Linked DNA regions of Homo sapiens: all the other regions are linked to region 1. The links come from fine-mapping of genetic effects on gene expression. A gene starts in region 1. Each other region holds a variant in brackets. All regions are shown on one strand. Distances are from middle to middle.

What was found. PIP is the estimated chance that this variant, and not a neighbour inherited with it, causes the effect.
Region 2: its variant is fine-mapped to the expression of GUF1 in skeletal muscle (GTEx, PIP 0.92).
Region 3: its variant is fine-mapped to the expression of GUF1 in prefrontal cortex (ROSMAP, PIP 0.95).

Annotation. Positions count from the first base shown.
Region 1 is chr4:44,677,210-44,679,709 of GRCh38, reverse strand. It overlaps GUF1 (GTP binding elongation factor GUF1), which reads right to left and starts at 1,290. Exons shown (of 17, transcript NM_021927.3): 1 at 923-1,290. The coding sequence starts at 1,087. RefSeq lists a silencer at 952-1,111 and an enhancer at 1,183-2,071.
Region 2 is chr4:44,619,471-44,622,330 of GRCh38, reverse strand. YIPF7 (Yip1 domain family member 7) reads left to right here. Exons shown (of 6, transcript NM_182592.3): 6 at 1-243. Among named protein-coding and RNA genes, the nearest start is that of YIPF7, 31 kb to the left of the region's middle. The variant A/G (reference allele first, on the strand shown) is at 1,513.
Region 3 is chr4:44,300,007-44,302,866 of GRCh38, reverse strand. All of the region lies in intron 1 of KCTD8 (potassium channel tetramerization domain containing 8), which reads left to right. All of the region lies in intron 1 of LOC107986275 (a long non-coding RNA gene), which reads left to right. Among named protein-coding and RNA genes, the nearest start is that of KCTD8, 150 kb to the left of the region's middle. The variant A/G (reference allele first, on the strand shown) is at 1,125.

The DNA of each region.
Region 1 (2,500 bases):
AAAATTCACGTGAGCTTTGTTTTTTAATAGCCCCATAAAGACAGATAATAAAAGCACAATTATAGCTGAAAGTCTGCCGAAAAAAAACTAATTCTGATGTTTGCCCTGTAGATTTTCTTTCCCTTCAGTTCAAAAGGTATAGAGAATTGCACCATCTTTATACTTCGAATTGCAATATAAATCCATTTTTAAAAACACAGGCATATTAGGGCCAAAGTTGATTAATTTAAGGTTTTGTCTTTCTGCCTACTTATAGCTTGCCTTCAGTCACTTCACTTTTCTGACTAAAATGTATCCATTCACAATTATCAGAGTTGTTGAACCTCCCACCCTCTCCCACCAGAGTCAAAATTACACAGGTTTGCTCTGGCTGAGGTAGAATGAAATAAAACTACAAAGACAGACCGAGAACTTCCTGCATTCTAGGTATTAGTCTAAAAAAGTCCACTTCTCACATCACACAAATCTCACAAATTAGCCACTGGATGTTTGATCAGTTCTGCATTCAACAAATGAAGTAGGAGAGTGACAATGTAGTAACTTGCCCAGGCCACATAGCTACTTAATTTGCAGGAAAATGGACGTTATATTAATATTTACTAGCAACTTGCTTAGTAGGCTTTTTAGAATTAAATAGATGAATAAACGCAAAGCACTTCGACCAGTGGCTCGCGTAAACAAATCAACATTTGACATTGAAAATGAGAAAACCTACAAAGTTAGTGACTTGCCCAAGGTCACACTAGTGAGGAGTGGAGGGTCGGGAACCTGAGCAGTGCTCACACTCTCCGCTCTGCCTCCCTGTACCAAGTTGCAAGCAGGGTTCAGAGCTAGTCCCAGAAAGCCCTATACATGTCCAAGATCGCATGGGGCACTCCAACGTTTGAAAACTTGGCTAAATCAGATTCCAGGGGGCAGTCACCTTGAATTCTGCGGAGCTGTAGAGCCTGTCGGTAGCCCAGGACTCTGGAGCAGCCCCAAGGGTCGGCGCGGACCGGGGCCCCGGGGCCACCAGAAGCGCGGCCCCAGTGGCTCGTGGCGCGAGAGCGCGTGCGCACCCCCAGCCCCGACCCACGAGGGTCCACATGACCCGGGCGGCGGAGGCGTCAGGAGAGGGTACCCACACGCAACAGCAGCATAGCCCGTTTTTTTTCGAAGGTACCCCCCGTAGGATCCGGTGGACAGGACTCAAACAGATCCTGTGAAGCGAAGACAATGAACCCCGGGGAGCTCTGCCCAAGTACCAGATCCGGAAGCAACCCGAAGCGGCGGCGCAGCTTGCCGACGTCTGCACGCCGCACGCTGTCGTGACATCAGCGCGTCTTGGCGCCGGGTAGTGGAGTGGTCACGTGAGTGGAGGCTTTCGATTGACTCCCTAAAACGCAGGGTGTAGACAGAGTACATATTAGCTTATATTGTCTGCTGAGTGCTGTGCCAATTCCTTTGCATTGTCTCTTTCTTACTACTGCCCTGTGGTGTGTGTACTGTCAGTTCCCCCAAACTACCTCTGGAAATCCGGACCGAGTGACTTGCCCAGGAGCTCACAGGTGGGGAGCTGTGGAGCCTGGAGTGCCGCCCAGGCAGTCTGATTCCCGAACCAGGAGCCGAGGTCTTAGTCCAGGGACTTAAAGATGCTATTATTAGCACAACGTTGAGACTTAGCCTTCTACCTAATGGCAAAATAATAATGGCACTTTTAAAATCTGGAGGTCGAAATGTATTCCCCATGTTGTCAGTGACAGAGCTAATCTTGAAGTGCATCTGAAAGGAAACGGGCCATAACATTGATTGCAATACTGAATCCAGGAAGGTTTTGGCAAGAAGTAAAGGTGGGAAAAAGTTCCATGCTGGACCCCCAATGTTTCCATCGTCATCAAGTTACCACTTCATGGAATGAGCTCTGACGAAGTAAGAATGGGGGATAAAACAGGTGATAGGAGGATTGCATCCAGTGTTTGTCTCCCACTATTTCTCTTGCGCTTTTCTGGAATATCCAGAATTTGGTGCGAAGGAGGGAGATGACAGCTGTGTTCAGTTCATCATTGTGACTGAAGACAGAATCATTCGTATTGTTTCCAGAGCCTTTGAAAGTTTCTTCATTTGGAGGATTTCTTAGGATCAAGAATTCTGTACCAGACTCAGTTCTTTCTTGGATTTTTTTTTCCCCCCTGAGATGGTGTCTCGCTCTGTCGCCCAGGCTGGAGTACAGTAGCGCTATCTCGGCTCACTGCAACCTCCGCCTCCTGGGCTCAAGCGATTCTCCTGCCTCAGTCTCCTGAGTAGCTGGGATTACAGGCGCGCGCCAGCAATCATGGCTAATTTTTGTATTTTTAGTAGAGACGGGGTTTCACCATGTTGGTCACGCTGATCTCGAACTCCTGACCTCGTGATCTGCCCACCTCGGCCTCCCAAAGTGTTGCGATTACAGGCGTGAGCCACCGCGCCTGGCCCTTTCTTGGAACTTTTATGAATTAAAACAGTACTTGATAGACGACTAATT
Region 2 (2,860 bases), 58 kb after region 1:
GATTTCTGTTTTATTGCTTTTGAGAGAGTAATAAGCAGAGAGACAAAGCAGCACTTAAGGGTGGTGCTCTAATAGCCTGTTGGTTTGAATGATGTTTTGCTTTTGAGTTTGGTGCATTAAAACATTTCAAAATACTTAAAATCAAAAGGGATACAGTTGCTGTACTGATCAACCCTGCTTTTCTCAATAGAGGTATTTCTGAGAAAAGTAAGTAAATAAACTCATATGTTTACTAAAAGGAAATCTCTAGTAAGCCTTTTGAGAAACTTTCATGACAGCTCAAGCTGTGTGCATGTGGCTAAAAACTGCACTGTTCTGCACCTTTGGAGAGTTCAGGGGTATGTTATATAGGGTTTTATTTACCTAAAGAATCAAAGAAACTCTTGCCTTTCAATTCACTTCTTTAATAACTATTCTTCAGTCTCATTTATATAATGCATTGACTCACCACTTTTTCAGGCCCTCACTTCCTTCTTACTTGGTTTAGATGCCATGGTTCATTACTATAATTTCTTTCTTGCATGTATCCTCAGCAACCTTGCCATTTTCTCCCTAAGTAGGTGAATGTTAATAGAAGAAATCCCACTTACTTCATGTTTATTGTATTACCATGTCTTAAATGGCTCCTCAGTACTACCCTTGAATCCCACTACATTCTCTTAAATTTGCCTCCATGCTATCTGAGATGAATATATCCCACCAATTCTTCACTGCTGAAATCCCCAATACTCCTTCCTCATTTTCTACTGTTTGTTGATTCTTATTTTATTGCAAAACAGAAACATCTAGAAGAAAAGTGCTTGTCTTCTCACTTTCTTCCCTCTCAACATACATGCATCTTAACCCATATATACTCTTCTTTTCCTCTCATCTCTCTCTTCTCTCCACAGCCAGCCCCTCCACCTGCATAACCCATATTTTCTCATCACCTATCATTTATGTCAGCACGTGAACATGTTTCAATATCTCTTACCTTAAAATAAAACTCCTTTGATTTAACATCTTTCTCCAATTATGGCTCATTCTCTGCTCCTTTTTATTGCAAAAATTCTTGAAAGAGTTTTCTATTGTCTCTGCTTCTACTTTATCATCTCCCATTCTTGCTTTCCTACATTCCAGGCAATAATTTATCATCCTATTCACCAAGACCCCTTTGTCAAGTTAGCAACAATGCCCACATCTTGCAACATTCAATGGTCAATTCTCAGTTTCATTTTATTTGAACCCTGACAGGTATTTATTTGATTACCCAATCTCCATTAGCCACTATGCTGAAGCACTTCTTCACTTAAATTCTAGAGTGTCACATGTTCTTGAATTATTTTCCTACCTCACAAGTAGCTTCTTTTCAGTCTCCTTGGCTGATCTTTCTTCTTCTTCTCAGACTTAAATCTCTTCTCTAATTCTCCCCTGCTAGATGAGCTCATTTAATTGAATAACTTTAAAATCTAGTGACCCCCAAATTTCCATCTACATTCAATGCTCTTCCCTAAGCTCTTAACATATATACAC[A/G]ACTTATACTTAATATTTCTATTTGATCATTAATATGATATTCTCAATAATAGCATATCTGAAACCAAACCCTTGACTTCTATCCTGTCCTAGCTGTCCTTCTTCCATATTTTCTCATCTTTATAACAAGAACCACAAATCACTCACTGGTTCATTTGCAGAGTAGTCAGTCTTGATTACTCTGACTTTCACATCCAATATCTAGTCCATCAATTATTTTGACTATGTAATCAAAACATGTCCCAAACGTGACCGTGTGTCCTGGGCTCCTTCGTTGCCTGGGCTACTCTGAACCACCCTCTTCTGTTGCCTCACGGAAGCAATTTCCTAATGGCTTCCTGCTTCCACACTTTCTCCCCCACAAGCTTTTCCTCACACCGGTGTAATCCTTTGAAAATGAAAAGCAATTATGTCATCCCAAGGCCCTTTCATGGCTTTTATTCATATTTACAATAAAACTAAACCTCCTTTTTATAACTCAGAAGCTTCCTTTTCAGAGTGGTCCCCAGAATAACAGCATTAGCATCCCTTGGAAGCTTGTTAGGAATTCAGAATCTCAGGCCCTGGCCCAGACTTCCTGAATCAGAGTCTGAATTTTAAAAAGATTCCAGATGATTTACATGCACAGCTAAGTTTGAAAAGTGTGAGACAAGAAGGCCTTGCCTGCACGATCTCACTATGTCTTGCTTTTGTGACATCATCTCCTTCCATTCTCTCTCTTGGTCGCTGGTTTTATTGCTTCTTCTCAAACCACCAACTTTATCCACTTCAGGATCTTTATACAAATTCAGTCTACTTGCAACATTTTCCCCTCAGATCTTTCATATTATCAACGTCTCTGTTTATATGTTACCTCCTGAGAGAGGCCTTCACTGGCTTTTTTTTTTCAACAGTACATCCACCCAGATTTGCTCAGTCCACCCTCTGCAGTAGCTGTTACAATTATGTGAAATTATGTTATTTATTTGGATACTTGCTTTCTATCCTACCCCAACTCCGCAGAAAATAAACACTCTGAGGCCAAAGACCTTGTCTATATGCAACAGTTCATGATAAGGAATAGGAGATAAATATTTATTTATTCAATTAATGAATAAACAAACGAATGAGACTGTGATTGGGCATTGTTCACTATGGTGAATAAGATAGGTGATGGTTGCAGCCCTAATGGAAATACATTGGCAGTGGACAAAAATAAACAATATGCAATCAATTAATATGAGATAATTACAAAAGTATGAGAAGAATTCTAAGGTAGGAGTATGTTGAAAAGAAGGCAGGATTGTAGTAAACGTTAGACTGTTACGGTCTAATAACCCATTAATAGACATGTTAATTAGCACAGAAT
Region 3 (2,860 bases), 380 kb after region 1:
TATCTAGGACAAACCCACAGCCAATATCATACTGAATGGGCAAAAACTGGAAGCATTCCCTTTGAAAACTGGCACAAGACAGGGATGCCCTCTCTCACCACTCCTATTCAACATAGTGTTGGAAGTTCTGGCCAGGGCAATTAGGCAGAAGAAGGAAATAAAGGGTATTCAATTAGGAAAAGAGGAAGTCAAATTGTCCCTGTTTGCAGACGACATGATTGTATATCTAGAAAACCCCATTGTCTCAGCCCAAAATCTCCTTAAGCTGATAAGTAACTTCAGCAAAGTCTCAGGATACAAAATCAATGTACAAAAATCACAAGCATTCTTATACACCAATAACAGACAAACAGAGAGCCAAATCATGAGTGAACTCCCATTCACAATGGCTTCAAAGAGAATAAAATACTTAGGAATCCAACTTAAAAGGGACGTGAAGGACCTCTTCAAGGAGAACTACAAACCACTGCTCAATGAAATAAAAGAGGTTACAAAGAAGTGGAAGAACATTCCATGCTCATGGGTAGGAAGAATCAATATTGTGAAAATGGCCATCCTGCCCAAGGTAATTTATAGATTCAATGCCATCCGCATCAAGCTACCAATGACTTTCTTCACAGAATTGGAAAAAACTACTTTAAAGTTCATATGGAATCAAAAAAGAGCCCGCAATCCCAAGTCAATCCTAAGCCAAAAGAACAAAGCTGGAGGCATCACGCTACCTGACTTCAAACTATACTACAAGGCTACAGTAACAAAAACAGCATGGTACTGGTACCAAAACAGAGATATAGATCAATGGAACAAAACAGAGCCCTCAGAAATAACGCCACATATCTACAACTATCTGATCTTTGGCAAAGCTGAGCAAAACAAGCAATGGGGAAAGGATTCCCTATTTAATAAATGGTGCTGGGAAAACTGGCTAGCCATATGTAGAAAGCTGAAACTGGATCCCTTCCTTACACCTTATACAAAAATTAATTCAAGATGGATTAAAGACTTAAATGTTAGAACTAAAACCATAGAAACCCTAGAAGAAAACCCAGGCATTACCATTCAGGACATAGGCATGGGCAAGGACTTCATGTCTAAAACACCAAAAGCAATGGCAACAAAAGCCA[A/G]AATTGACAAATGGGATCTAATTAAACTAAAGAGCTTCTGCACAGCAAAAGAAACTACCATTAGAGTGAACAGGCAACCTATGAAATGGGAGAAAATTTTCACAACCTACTCATCTGACAAAGGGCTAATATCCAGAATCTACAATGAACTCAAACAAATTTACAAGAAAAAAAGAAACAACCCCATCAAAAAGTGGGCAAAGGATATGAACAGACACTTCTCAAAAGAAGACATTTATGCAGCCAAAAGACATATGAAAAAATGCTCATCATCACTGGCCATCAGAGAAATGCAAATCAAAACCACAATGAGATAACATCTCACGCCAGTTAGAATGGCAATCATTAAAAAGTCAGGAAACAACAGGTGCTGGAGAGGATGTGGAGAACTAGGAACACTTTTACACTGTTGGTGGGACTGTAAACTAGTTCAACCATTGTGGAAGTCAGTGTGGCGATTCCTCAGGGATCTAAAACTAGAAATACCATTTGACCCAGCCATCCCATTACTGGGTATATACCCAAAGGACTATAACTTATGCTGCTATAAAGACACATGCACACATATGTTTATTGCGGCATTATTCACAATAGCAAAGACTTGGAACCAACCCAAATGTCCAACAACGATAGACTGGATTAAGAAAATGTGGCACATATACACCATGGAATACTATGCAGCCATAAAAAATGATGAGTTCATGTCCTTTGTAGGGACATGGATGAAATTGGAAATCATCATTCTCAGTAAACTATCGCAAGGACAAAAAACCAAACACCGCATGTTCTCACTCATAGATGGGAATTGAACAATGAGAACATATGGACACAGGAAGGGGAACATCACACTCTGGGGACTGTTGTGGGGTGGGGGGAGGGGAGAGGGATAGCTTTGGGAGATATACCTAATGCTAAATGACGAGTTAATGGGTGCAGCACACCAGCATGGCACATATATACATATGTAACTAACCTGCACATTGTGCACGTGTACCCTAAAACTTAAAGTATAATAATAAAAAAAAGAGTTCTTATTGATAATCCTACTGGTGTAGGATTAGTTTGAATAAGCATTTAAAAAACATACCATAAGTTTATTTTTCTAGTTATTGCATATAACAGTACATTCTCTTGTTGCAATCAGATTGCAAAGCTGATTATTCTTTTCTGTAACCTTTTAATAGAATATTTCAAACAAGTTTTTATTTAAAAAGAGATGGCAATACAGAAAATGTTTTCTCATGTTATACATGAATATAACCTTTTTTTCTGATCAGATTGCAAAACTGATTATTCTTTTCCGTAACCTTTTAATAGAATATTTCAAACAAGTTTTTATTTGAAAAGAGATGGCAATACAGAAAACGTTTTCTCATGATGTACATGAATATAACCTTTTTTTTCTGATAGCATGATTGTAATTAGATCCATTGTGGACAGTGCTTTACATTTATTATATTATTAGTGATAAAAATCGTGATTGGGAACTGAAATAGAAGCTGTGCCTCTGATAAATATCAGAACTTTGGAGGGCTTTAATCTGTTCTAATTTACTCATAAGTGTGTAGACTTAGTTATAAATCAAAACAGCATGTTATTCTACACCTCTGTAGGTTATTTTGGACAACTCTGAATTTCCATTACATTTGAAAAATAGTCAAGAGTCAGGTTATTTTTAAAAATCACCTAAGGCGGCCGAGTGCGGTGGCTCACAGCTGTAATCCCAGCACTTTGGG